Regions from separate parts of the Homo sapiens genome. Here regions 1 and 3 are each linked to region 2. The links come from fine-mapping of genetic effects on gene expression. A gene starts in region 2. Each other region holds a variant in brackets. All regions are shown on one strand. Distances are from middle to middle.

Region 1 (4,000 bases), 22 kb after region 2:
ATAGCATGGGGTAGTGGGACTAGCATGGGGTAGTGGCAGCAGCATGGAGTAGTGGGAATAGCATGGGGTAGTGGGAGCAGCATAGGGTAGGGGAATAGCATGGGGTAGCGGGAATAGCATGGCATAGCGGGAATAGCATGGGGTAGGGGAATAGCGTGGGGTAGTGGGAGCAGCATGGGGTAGGGGAATAGCGTGGGGTAGTGGGAGCAGCATGGGGTAGGGGAATAGCGTGGGGTAGTGGGAGCAGCATGGGGTAGGGGAATAGCATGGGGTAGCGGGAATAGCATGGCATAGCGGGAATAGCATGGGGTAGGGGAATAGCGTGGGGTAGTGGGAGCAGCATGGGGTAGGGGAATAGCGTGGGGTAGTGGGAGCAGCATGGGGTAGGGGAATAGCGTGGGGTAGTGGGAGCAGCATGGGGTAGGGGAATAGCATGGGGTAGCGGGAATAGCATGGCATAGCGGGAATAGCATGGGGTAGGGGAATAGCGTGGGGTAGTGGGAGCAGCATGGGGTAGGGGAATAGCGTGGGGTAGTGGGAGCAGCATGGGGTAGGGGAATAGCATGGGGTAGGGGAATAGCATGGCATAGCAGGAATAGCATGGGGTAGGGGAATAGCATGGCATAGCGGGAATAGCATGGGGTAGGGGAATAGCGTGGGGTAGTGGGAGCAGCATGGGGTAGCGGGAATAGCATGGGGTAGGGGAATAGCATGGGGTAGCGGGAATAGCATGGGGTAGTGGTACTAGCATGGGGTAGGGGAATAGCATGGGGTAGCGGGAATAGCATGGGGTAGTGGTACTAGCATGGGGTAGGGGAATAGCATGGGGTAGTGGGAGCAGCATGGGGTAGTGGGAGCAGCATGGGGTAGTGGGAGCAGCATGGGGTAGCGGGAATAGCATGGGATACTGGGAGCAGCGGGAATAGCAAGCCAAACCTCAGAGCTAAGGTAGCCAAGTGCGGGCCAATGGCAAGACCACGATGCCTTTGGGATTTGAACTTGGGGGTGTGCTGACTTGTTGCAACTAAGTCCTTTATAAAGGACATAAGATATGGTTACTTCTTTCTTGAAAAATGGGGTTCACTGGCTAGGAACAGAGGAAATTTTTCAGTCCGGGTTTGCTACCGAGGTGGAGTCAGCTGCCACTCTCCCCCGCCGTGGCCTCTCTCCCTGCACTGTGGCCCTGTCCACCTCGAGGCTTCTTGAAAGTGGCTCTGCTTTTCTCCATTTTAACTCTGCTCTGTGCCCTGTCTTTTCATTTTGCCTTGGGAGAGTCACCGAGTCCCTGCCCCACAGGCCACACAGAGCCAGACCTTTCTTGGCTGCCACCCTCTCCTCCTCCTCCTTCTCCTCCAGAGCCTTCACTTTGGCCTCATACTCATCAGCCAGCGCCTTCCACTCTTTCCTATTGTTCTGCAGTCGGTCGAACATGGGCAGGATCTCTTCGTGGAAACGAGAGAACTCCTGAGGGGAGTCGAGAAGTCACCACCAGTCCTGTCCTGCCTGCTCTCTCCAGAGTAAGATAGCCCTTCCCCAGCTCATCCCCCTCGTAGGGGATGAACTGCCTGGCAGGAGGAGGGAGCGCCACGGAGGGGGCACCTTCCCAGCAGAGCCCTGTGAAGGGAGAAACCTCGGGGGCTGTGTTGGTGACATTGAAGCCGGGAGCTTTAGGGTATGCATGCTTAGGGTGCAGTGTTGCAGGGAGAGGAACCCAAGAATGAGCAGAACAGCTCAGGGGGTGGGGGCAGGGTGCCAGGCAGAGGGGTGGTGGGCACAGGCGGACAGCAGGCAGCCCCTGCAGTGCCTTCTCCCGTCCCTCCCACACACACACGGCACACATCATGCAAGCACAGCACACGCGTGCACTCGCGCACATCACACATGGAGTGTGGCGGGGTGGGGAAGGCAGTGGGGGGCACCTGCAGTGGGGCCGTGACCTGTGGCCACTTCAGGCCCAAATATCCACCCTTGTCCCACCTTCTCCCCAGCACTGACGACCCGGGGTGGGTAGGATGGGGCGGGGAGTGGGCACAGCCCACTCCGGGACAACTTCATGTGGAACCCGTGGCATCCTCCTTGGGGCGTGGATTCCATCACCAGGGAGTGTGGCCGGAGGCAGCTGGCTCTTATGGGCATCACACAGGGCCCCACGGTCAGACCCCTGCCCCATCGAGTCTCCCCCTCCATGTCCGCCTTGCGTCCTCAGAGACTCAGCTGGCATCGGACTGTGGCAGATTGGCAGGGATGTGGCTCCTTCTGCTGTTCCAAACGCCCCTGTGGGCGGGTGCACCAGCAGACAGGCCGACCCAGCCCCGCCTCGAGGGTTCACAAACATGGAACAAATGAACCCACAGAGCTGCAGCCAAGGCCCCCAAAACAGTGTGCTGGCCA[C/T]GGCGGAGGGCACTGAGGGAGAACTTCTGGGGTAGGCCTGGAGGCTAGCAGAGGACATTCTGGGCTGGGAAAGGGCTCAGAGCTTCCAGGGGCACAGCAGGGTGAGGATGGGCTGGGGCACCTGTGGGGGTCCGGAAACTGATGTTCCTCCCCATTTGCCCCACTCAAGAGCGGCACGAAGCTGGCACTGGCATCCCTACTCCAGTGAGGACACCGCCGGGCCCGTGTGAGTCCACGCGACTCCAGCCCGCGCCCCCTTGCCTGCTCCCAGCCACCCTGCCCCAGTCAGCTCGGAACACCCGTGAACCACTCGCCTTGTACACGAATGTGCACACGAAGTCGATGAAGCCCACTTGCAGCTTGGGGAGCTCGGCCGCCTTGTTCCGGTCCATCATAGGCTGGTGGGAGGAACAGAGGGCGGGAGAACAGTGACCAGGGAGGCAGCTCCTGGGGCCCCGCCCAGCCCCCCGACCCCCTCACTCAGATGTGCTCATGGAGACACAGCCTGGGACGAGCCTGCCTGACAGAAACTGGCTCTCGGGAGGGGAAGCTGACACCCTCTCCCTTGGCCAGCGGCTCCACAGCTCCTAGGAACTGTGGGCAGCTTCTTCCCACAGCTGCTGTTGGCTCCAGCCCGTGGTCCCCTGAGGGCAGCCCCCTCTTGGCTCTGGGGACCCTTACTGCAGCTGGGGAGAGGCGGGGAGGGGGATGGGCTGTACACAGTGCTGAGCCGGGCTGGGCTGCACTGCCCAGACACTCGGCTGACCAGGACCTCGCTGTGCACTCGCCTGGGGCAGACACAGACGTGCTCTGGAGCTGTTTCTAGTGTCAGACCCCGAGTGCCCTGGGCTGTCCGTCCCCTCACAGCGTCCTGGTGGAGGGTGAACCATGCAGGACTCTAGAGGCCGGGCGCGGGGGATGGACCTGCTGCCTGTCCTTCCCCTGTGGGGCTTTGCTGACCAACCAATGCCCCCTTTCCTGCCGAGGCTGCACCTGGCCTAAGCCCTCTCCACTGCAGGCTCCAGAGAGCCCCTCGCCGCCCACCAGAGCGGGTGTGTGAGAAACCACAGCTCCCACCTGGTCCACGTGGGGCTGGGGCAGCCCTGCCTCTCCTGTTCCTGGCGCCTATCCTGACTCTCCCATTTGCTGGCACCTCTCCTGCTGCCAGGAGGTATCCAGACCCCGCTGCTGACCTGAGGACCCTGGCATTGTCCATCATACCACTGTGTGGGCCCGGGACGCCCCCCATGCGTTCTCTGCCCCAGCACCCTCCCCAGGGCTTTCTTGGTGCATGGCTCGCGGCCCTGCTGGGGTTCACCTGCAGAGCTGCCTGGACCCAGAGGCTCCTGGTGATGAGCGGGTGGCCCTGGTTCCTCCAGTGCCAACGACGTCACCTCTGCATAAGCATCACCCAAGCCACAGCTGTACCCAGGTCCGAGCCACCCACACGCATGTCACATGATCCCACAAAGTGAGATAAGGACCCCACGACCTCAGAACCCCCTGCCTGAGACCAAGCCAGGACCTGAGGCTCCTGAGGACCAAGAGGGGTCTCTAACACCCGTTTCAGGAGTGGAAGGTTCCAGAAGCAGCACTCACAATGGGCTGC
Region 2 (4,220 bases):
CTGAGTAGCTGGGATTACAGGCATGCACCACCATGCCCAGCTAATCTGTTGCATTTTTAGTGAAGACGGTTTCACCATATTGGCCAGGCTGGTCTTGAACTCCCGACCTCAGGTAATCCACCCACCTCGGCCTCCCAAAGTGCTGGGATTATAGATGTGAGCTACCTCGCCCAGCCATGGTTTGTAATTTTTTTTTTTTTTTTTTGAGACAGAGTCTCACTCTGTTGCCCAGGCTGGAGTGCAGTGGCATGATCTCAGCTCACTGCAACCTCTGCTTCCCGGGTTCGAGATTCTCTTACCTCAGCCTCCCAAATAGCTGGGACTACAGGTGCATGTCACCACACCTGGCTAATTTTTGTATTTTTACTAGAGACTGGGTTTCACCATGTTGGCCAGGCTGGTCTTGAACTCCTGACCTTGTGATCCACCTGCCTTGGCCTCCCAAAGTGCTGGGATTACAGGCGTGAGCCACCGCACCCGGCCCATGGTTTGTAATTTTTAGCATGCAAGTTCTGTAGATGGTTTGCTAAGTTTATACCAAAGTATTTAATTTTCCTTGGAGTAATTATGAATGTCTTTAACTTTGGTTTTCATGTTTCTTGTTGGTATACATCAATGCAAGCGATTGTTGTGTGCTGATCTTGCATTCTGCAATGTTGCTGAGCTCACCTGCTCAACCCAAGAGTTCCGACATGTAGGGAGGAGGAGCCCCTCAACAATGCACGCTCAACAGAGACTGAACAATGGAGGTAGCTACAGTGGCTGCCCCGTTTCATGGTGACACCCCTCGACAATGCACGCTCAACAGAGACTGAACGATGGAGGTAGCTACTGTGGCTGCCCCATTTCATGGTGACAGGCTCAGACACCACCTGTCAGAGGCAGTGCTCCACAATAGTGAGGTCCCTCAACAGGGAAGCCTGCACTGCAACTCCCCCTCTGCCAGGTGGGGTTAGGGGATGTTGAAGGCCCTAGGCCAACATTGGCACTGGACTATGGAGGAAGGTTGTGAGGGGGCTGGGTCCTCAGGGCAGGGCGAGCAAGAGGTGAGGAGAAGGAGAACAGAAGGAACTGGTGGGGGAATGGGGAACAAAGATGAGGGGGGAGGCTAGACGGTGGGGAAGGCAGAGGAGATAAAGAGAGTGAGGACCACAGGGCTCCATCACACGTCTCAGAGAATGGAACCCCCTTGGGGCCCACCCATCTCAGGACACCCCGGGTGAGCTCCATTTTCTCTTTGTTACTGGATGAGACTCTACAAAAAAAAAAAAATCCCAAAGTGGAGAGCTCTATCTGAGACACACACACAATCCCTGCAGAAGACTGCACAGTGAAAGCTGGGGCCTCATCATTAGCCTGTTCAGACTCAGGTGTGGAAAATGGACAGGCCCTGGCAAAGGAGATGAATGTTTAAGACAAAAACCACGAATAATACTGTTCAGGAAACGGGGATGGTTTCAAGGGTCAAGAGAGCCTCCCTGTTTGGGGGAAATCCTGTTTGCACGTCTGACCAGGCCAGCCTCCACCCCACCCCTATACTGGCCTCAGCAACAGGGCCTGGAGCCTCTTGGGTTCCCCCAGGGTGGGCCAGGCACAGTTGTGGGATCAGCAGGTTCTTGCAGAAAAGACTAAGCCGAAACTCCCTCCTCTGCCTTCCAACACACAGGCCTCTCCATCCTAAACAAACAGAAACCTGTGCCTACTCCTCTGAGAGCCGTGTCCTCCATTGTAAAATGCAGGTAACAATCCGGTGCGTGTGTGGCGGACTGCCTACCCCAGGGTGGGGCCCACAGGCCTTTCTGGCCTTCCCTCCAGCCTTGGCCTGCAGCCCCTCGCCCTCCTACCCCATGCCTGCTTCCCGCAGGGGCTGTAGAGGGACTGGTCTGATTTGAGGCTCTGCGCAAAGCCAGCCCAGCCTCTTCTTCCAGGCTGGCCTCTGGCCCCTCCCTGTGGCTGGCTTGAACCTCAGGAACTTGGGGTCCACAGCCCCCTTCAGGAAGTGCAGAGCTTCTGCTGGGCAGAGTGACTTCCAGGCCGCCTTTCCTGCTGAGAAGCACACAGGCTGTGACCGGGGCCCTTCCCGGAAGGGACATTCGGTTTTTGTGGCAGGGACTTCCAGCCTGAGGCCGAAGGAGGAGGGTCCAACTTCACCTTTGCCCGCCCTTCCCCCGCTTTTTTGGGTCTCCTTTAACTGGGACGGGGCGGGACCCTCCTCCGTAGTCCTTGGGGCGGAACTGGCCCCCCGTGGCCCGGCCCGGCCCGGCCCCACCTCCGCCCGCAGGCGGTCCCGGCCCACGCGGGAAGGTCCTTAAGCCCGGGCGGCCGGCGGGACCGGCGGAGACCCGTGGAGGCCGCCGACGATGGCGGGGCCGACGGAGGCCGAGACGGGGTTGGCCGAGCCCCGGGCCCTGTGCGCGCAGCGGGGCCACCGCACCTACGCGCGCCGCTGGGTGTTCCTGCTCGCGATCAGCCTGCTCAACTGCTCCAACGCCACGGTAGGGGCAGGGGCGGGGACAGGTGGCTCCGGGACCCTCAGTCCCTCGGACCAGCCGGGTTTTGTTTTCCTGTGGCCACAGCCCGAGGTGCCAGGTGCTGGCTGGGGGCGGGGGGTGCCTTCTGGAGGTGGCTAGGGATTGCGGGCACTGGGGGCACTGTCTGTCCTGGAGGTGGCTGGGCCCAGGGCACAGAGCAGGGCTGGGTGCCCCGGGGGATCTGCCAGTCACGGAGTCCCAGCCCTTCCCAGCCTTCAGTGGCTCCAGCCTGGGTCCCTCTTCCCCAGCCAGTCACATACAGGTGGCCCTGCGTTGGCCCTCTCTCCTTCCACGCCTCCCAGCCCCAGGACAGCAGGCACACAGCAGAGGCGCGCTTGGAGCCGCCCTCCCCTCCACCTGACTCTGAGTGAGGGGCGGCTCCTGGGCTGGGCTGGGTTCCGTCCTGCCCCCACCCCCTTCAGGTGTTGCACGCTGCAGCCTTTCCCGCCCTGTGTGCCCTCATCAGCCATCCCCCGGAGCCTCAGGAACTGGTCAGGCAGTATCTGGCCAACGTGCAATGAACAGCTAGAGTTGGCAGCAGGACCCACAGCTCAGGGAGGCGCCAGGTCACGGGGATGGTCAGGAAGCTCGGGGGCAGGGGCAGGAGTCACTCTCAGGCCTGGGTCAGGGCTCTTCCAGGTGGACCCCGGGGCCTCTCCCCTCCTCCTTTGCTGGCTGGGTATGGAGGGCCAGCCTCTGGCCGAGACAGGCCCGGGATCTGCTGGATGGGCCCAGGGGCTGCCTGCTGCCCACAATGCTGGCACGAGCCGTAACTCACTGCTGTGGCTTGGCGTCCTGGCCCACCATGTCCAGGCACTGGGGAAGCCATAACTGGCTTTGGGTGGAGTGTCTGAGGGTGCAGGGCTGGTTTCATGGTCCAAGAGTCAGTGGGTGTCGTAGGTGTGGGGCGTTCCTTGGACAGTCAAGGGCCTCCTGCTGCAGTTCTTCACTGTTTTATTAATATCCACGAGTCATCATGGAGCACACAGAAATCTCACCCTGACACCAAGAGTCGTCATGGTCTCTGCCTGGGTCACCACAGTGAGCCGTAAGCACCATGTTCACTCCAGCCAAGTGCCCTTGAGGCTGGAGGTTACTCATCTGCAGCCAGTGACCAGGGATCCCGGGTTCCAACCAGCAGCATGAGGGCCAGGCGGAGCAGAGCTTGGGTCAACACCCACCCCGGAAGGCAGCCCAGTGCTCTGGATGAGACTCAAAGGACCCAAGGGGGCGAGCGCAGGCAGGGTCGAGGCTGGGAGATGAGGAAGGGAGTCAGACAGATCGTCCTCCCACGTTGCCCCGCACGCTTCAGACGCATCTCTTCTCAGTGAGTCAGCTGTGGGCCCCACTCAGGCCCCCGAGGAACCAGGACAGGGCTGAGGCTGGAGCGGCGGGCTCGGCTCCGCAGGGTGGGCTTTCTCTCCCGGGCTCGGCCAGGCAGGCACCAGCTGGGCCTGGGGAGCTCGTTCTGTGCCTGGCCCCGTCCTGCAGAAAAAGGAAGACAGGGCGGCTGTTGCCCAAGCTCCCTGTCCTGTCCCGTGGGCTGAGTCAGACCTTGTCCGGGCGGAGCCTGGGTCTGGCTGCTGTGTCCGAGGGTGTGGCCTGGAGCTCAGTCGACTCATGGAAGTTGACCTTGAGTGACACGGCCTCCTGCCTCCCGGAGTGAGCCCCGGTGACCCGCTCCACTTT
Region 3 (4,000 bases), 41 kb after region 2:
CCCCAAGCCCGTGCCCAGCGTCCCAGCACCCCGGTACAGGATACACCTGCTGCATCCACAAGGCCCCGGGGATGGTTCGAGCAGCCTGGGCTTCTGGGCTGCATGGAAGCTGAGGTTGTGTCCCTCCTGCATTGACTGGGGTCAGGTTTAATGCTCCAGGGTGAAACCAGGGTGACAGCGGTGGCCACCCCGTGTACTCAGAAATGAGGGATCCACTGACATGGGGGGCAGAAGGCACAGAGACGCATATGGCCCTGGAAGGGGAGCTGCTCAGCCTCATGGCCCTCTCATTACTTATGGGAAGGAGGGGCCAGGAGGTCCTGAGGGGCCAGGGCAGATGGGATCCCCACTGGCTGCCCAGCCAGTGGAGTAGGGCCAGAGTCTCCCCCCGACCCTGAGCCCTGGGCCATAGCTGTGGTGGGAGGCAAGCGCTCAGGCCTACGCGGTCCCAACCCCAGGCCTTTGTGGGTCCACCAGCGAACAGTCTTCCCAGGCCTCTGTGGGTCCACCAGCGAACAGTCTTCCCAGGCCTTTGTGGGTCCACCAGTGAACAGTCTTCCCAGGCTGTGGTCAGCATAAGGGACCCCAGCGAGTGCCTGGGGAATCCAAGAATGGCGCTCCTTCACTTTCAAAGCAGCAGCAGGTGGCCCCAGCGTCCCTTGGAGGCCTGGTCGCTAGGACGGGCCTCGGCCCTACTGAAGCCCCAGCCCCAGGAGCCTTGTTTCTGGAGACGTTTCCCCCTGGGCCCAGGGCCTTGACAAATCTAGTGTGTGTCCTGGCATCAGGGCAGAGGGCTTCATCTCATGGTGAGCTTCTCAGAGCTGGTTGTTGAATCCTCAGGCATTCTGAGAGCCAGCCATTAAACATAGCCATTATGACAATTCAATCATGGCCATTATGTCAATTAAATCATGTAACCTATAAACTAGAACACTGTATTAAAAGGAAAGGCGACAGACACCCAGGATCACCCGCCCCGCCCCACTGTGGGTCGCTGTTGGCCGTGCTCGGGGCTTCGCTACGGCAGACGGACTGCTGTGCCAGCGTGGATCTCCCCACAGCTCCATCTGGCTCATCATGGTGGGGCCCTAAGTCCGAAGTTGGCCAGCTCAACAGGCTCCCGCCACTGCCCGGTGTGGACAGACCACGCCCGCCCCTCCTGGCCGCCTCTCACTTCTGAATGGCTCTGCTTCCTCACAGGAGGCAGGAGTCAGACCTGCAGAGACAGAAGGCTCCCCCGCTCCTCCCATGCCTGACCTGAGTCGGGGCACCTCCTCCGCCCTTGCAGCGAGCCACCGGGTCCTGACGCATGGCCGGCCTGAAGGTGAGAGCTGCAGCCCTGCACCCACAGGCCTTTCATGCAGCTTTGCTGCAGCTCAGACAGCTGGGCGGTGAGAATTGCTCCACTAAGCCGAACAGGCAGCTGCCGTGACAGGTCAGAGAGAAACCTGAGCTCTGTAGGGCCTAACCCATGGCTTTCCTGCGGCCTCTGTTGGCTCTGATGGGAGTGTCCGAGAGGCTTTTCAGAAAGGGAATGGCAGGGGCCTCCAGCTGGAGGGTGCCTGGGACAGAAGGTAGTTCCTGATTGTCCAGGTGAGGGCCCGGGACAGAGGGAGGGGGGAGCGCCCAGAGGCTGCTTCAATCCCAGTGACCAGCTTTCCTTCCACAGCTCAAGGAGGAGGCAGACGAAGTGCAGGCGTTGGGCGGACTGCGGGGGCCAATCTTTGCTCATCACAAACTTTTATTTTCAAAAAGAGCCGTGAGGCAGGCCTGTGCCTCCTGCAAGTCAGGATGCCTAAAAATGCCGTTCGGAGGGCAAGACCCAGAAACAGCTTTTCCTAGGACTGGGCAATGTCTGGTGCAAAATCGAAAGTCTCACATGGAGACACAAGGTCACGTGTTAGAACCTTGAGCTGGTCTCCACATGCCTGCAGACTGAGAGGCTGGAAACAAGGAGTTTCCTAGGTGTTGGTAATTCACTTGTTGCCTGGTTTAGGGCTGGGGTGACCAGACAACAGAACGGGCAAATACGCCTGACTCTTGGCTCTTTCTTTCTTTTTTTTTTCGAGATGGAGTTTTGCTCTTGTTGCCCAGGCTAAAGTGCAGTGGCGCGATCTTGGCTCACTGCTACCTCTGCCTCCCGGGTTCAAGCAATTTTCCTGCCTCAGCCTCCTGAGTAGCTGGGGTTA[T/C]AGGCATGCACCACCACGCCCAGCTAATTTTTTGTATTTTTTACTAGAGATGGGGTTTCACCATTTTGGCCAGGCTGGTCTCGAACTCCTGACCTCAGGTGATCTGCGCGCCTCAGCCTCCCAAAGTGCTGGGATTACAGGCATGAGCCATCACACCTGGCCAGAGCCACACTTTTAAAACTGAGGTCTGTTGCTGGGTGGTTCCCGCTGTGTACTAGATTGCGTGCCCCTCCCCCCATGCATCTGTGAAGCCCTCACCCGAGATGCGATGGTGAGTGGAGGTGGGGCCCTGGGGGATGATTAGGGTTAGGTGAGGTCACGAGCCTGGGGCCCCTACGAGACGTGCCCTTATGGGACGAGGACACAGCAAGCCAGGGAGAGAGCCCTCGCCAGAAATGGAACCTGGTCAGCACCTTCATCTGGAACTTCACAGCCTCCAGAAGTGTCAGAAACGAATGCCCACTGTCTCAGGTGCTCGGTGTGTGGTATTTTGTTATGGCAGCTCAAGCTAATACAGAAGCAAAAACAAACCATAAACAAGGGCGCGGAAGCTGCTGTCACCCTCAGCTGCAGCAAATGTTCATTCAATACAGCCCAGCTCCCGGCCAGATGGACCCCAAATCCCACACTCAAGGCTGATTTGCCCCAGTCCCTGCTTTGGCCAAAAATTATAAGTCATGCTAAAAGGCAAGAAAAAGCAACAGTCCAAAAAGGCAAAGCAAGCCTCAGAACCAGACTCAGATGTGACACGAAGTTGGGAATTATCAGACTGGGAATTTAAAATTACTATGATCAGGCCAGGCGAGGTGGCGCATGCCTGTAATTCTAGTGCTTTGGGAGGCTGAGGCGGGCAGTTCAACTGAAGTCAGGAGTTCAAGACCAGCCTGGCCAACATGGTGACACTCATCTCTACTAAAAATACAAAAATTAGCCGGGCCGCGGTGGTGGGCACCTGTAATCCCAGCTACTCAGGAGGCTGAGGCAGGAGAATCACTGGAACCCAGGAAGCGGCGGCTGCAGTGAGCCGAGATTGAGCCACTGCACTCCAGCCAGGGCCACAGAGCAAGACAATGTCTCAAAAAAAAAAAAGGAAAATTATGATGATCAATATGCTAAAGGCGCTACTAGAAAACGGAGGCAGCGCACCGGAGCAGATGGTAACATAAGCAAAGAGATGGACGCTCTGGGAAGGACAAGGCGCGCTGGAGTACAGGAAATGCGAGGTGGAAACGCAGTGCGCCGCCGCCCGGCCGGAGGCTGCGCGTGTCTGAGGAAGGGGGCCGGGAGCGCGAACACAGAAACGCAGAGGGAACCACGAGCGGAGCGAGCGGAGCAGAGAGACAAATACAGAAGGTGCGAGTGGGCGGCGGGTGCCGGAAGGAGCAGAAAGAGCGAAGGAGAAGACATGTTGGAAGTAATAATGGCTGAGATTTTCCAAAAGTATTGACAGACACCAAACCGCGCGTCTAGGATGCTCAGTGACTGTCAAAAAAGACAAATGCCAAAAAACTGATCCTAAGGCACGTCATATTCAAACTGCAGACAACCAAGCTGAAAACCTCGAGGGAAGCTGGGGGTGGGGGAACATCTGACCAAGAGTGGAACGAGACGTTGGAAACATCTCATCAGAAACGATGCGAGCAAGAGGAGAGTGAAGTATTGGAAGTGTTGAGAAAAAAATGTGCTAACTTATAATTCTGTATACAGTAAAATTATCCTTAAGAAGTGAAGGAGAAATAAAGACTTTCTCAGATAAACAGAAACTGAGGAATGTGTTACCAGTGGACTTGCCCAGCAGAAAATGTTCAAAG

Direction of the effects. Alleles are on the strand shown, and positions count from the first base shown. SD is a standard deviation of normalised expression in the study named.
In carriers of allele T in region 1, the expression in tibial nerve of the gene that starts at base 2,337 in region 2 tends to be higher than with C alone (moderate effect, 0.51 SD a copy in GTEx).
For the expression in coronary artery of the gene that starts at base 2,337 in region 2, T is the low allele of the variant in region 3 and C is the other (moderate effect, 0.51 SD a copy in GTEx).

Evidence for each region. PIP is the estimated chance that this variant, and not a neighbour inherited with it, causes the effect. A credible set is the group of variants that fine-mapping cannot tell apart.
Region 1: its variant is the best candidate, but not a certain one, in a credible set for the expression of SLC49A3 in tibial nerve (GTEx, PIP 0.75).
Region 3: its variant is the best candidate, but not a certain one, in a credible set for the expression of SLC49A3 in coronary artery (GTEx, PIP 0.81).

What each region holds. Positions count from the first base shown.
Region 1 is chr4:665,320-669,319 of GRCh38, reverse strand. PDE6B (phosphodiesterase 6B) reads right to left here. Exons shown (of 22, transcript NM_000283.4): 19 at 3,991-4,000; 20 at 2,706-2,789; 21 at 1,314-1,464. Among named protein-coding and RNA genes, the nearest start is that of ATP5ME, 7.0 kb to the left of the region's middle. The variant C/T (reference allele first, on the strand shown) is at 2,392.
Region 2 is chr4:687,268-691,487 of GRCh38, reverse strand. SLC49A3 (solute carrier family 49 member 3) reads left to right here and starts at 2,337. Exons shown (of 10, transcript NM_032219.4): 1 at 2,337-2,495. The coding sequence starts at 2,361. It overlaps LOC124900643 (a long non-coding RNA gene), which reads right to left. Exons shown (of 2, transcript XR_007057985.1): 2 at 3,469-4,016. RefSeq lists enhancers at 1,301-1,350, 1,126-2,073, 2,074-3,022, 3,971-4,220 and silencers at 2,291-2,350, 2,381-2,550.
Region 3 is chr4:646,142-650,141 of GRCh38, reverse strand. The region is part of intron 3 of PDE6B (phosphodiesterase 6B); the gene reads right to left. Among named protein-coding and RNA genes, the nearest start is that of PDE6B-AS1, 7.1 kb to the left of the region's middle. The variant T/C (reference allele first, on the strand shown) is at 2,190.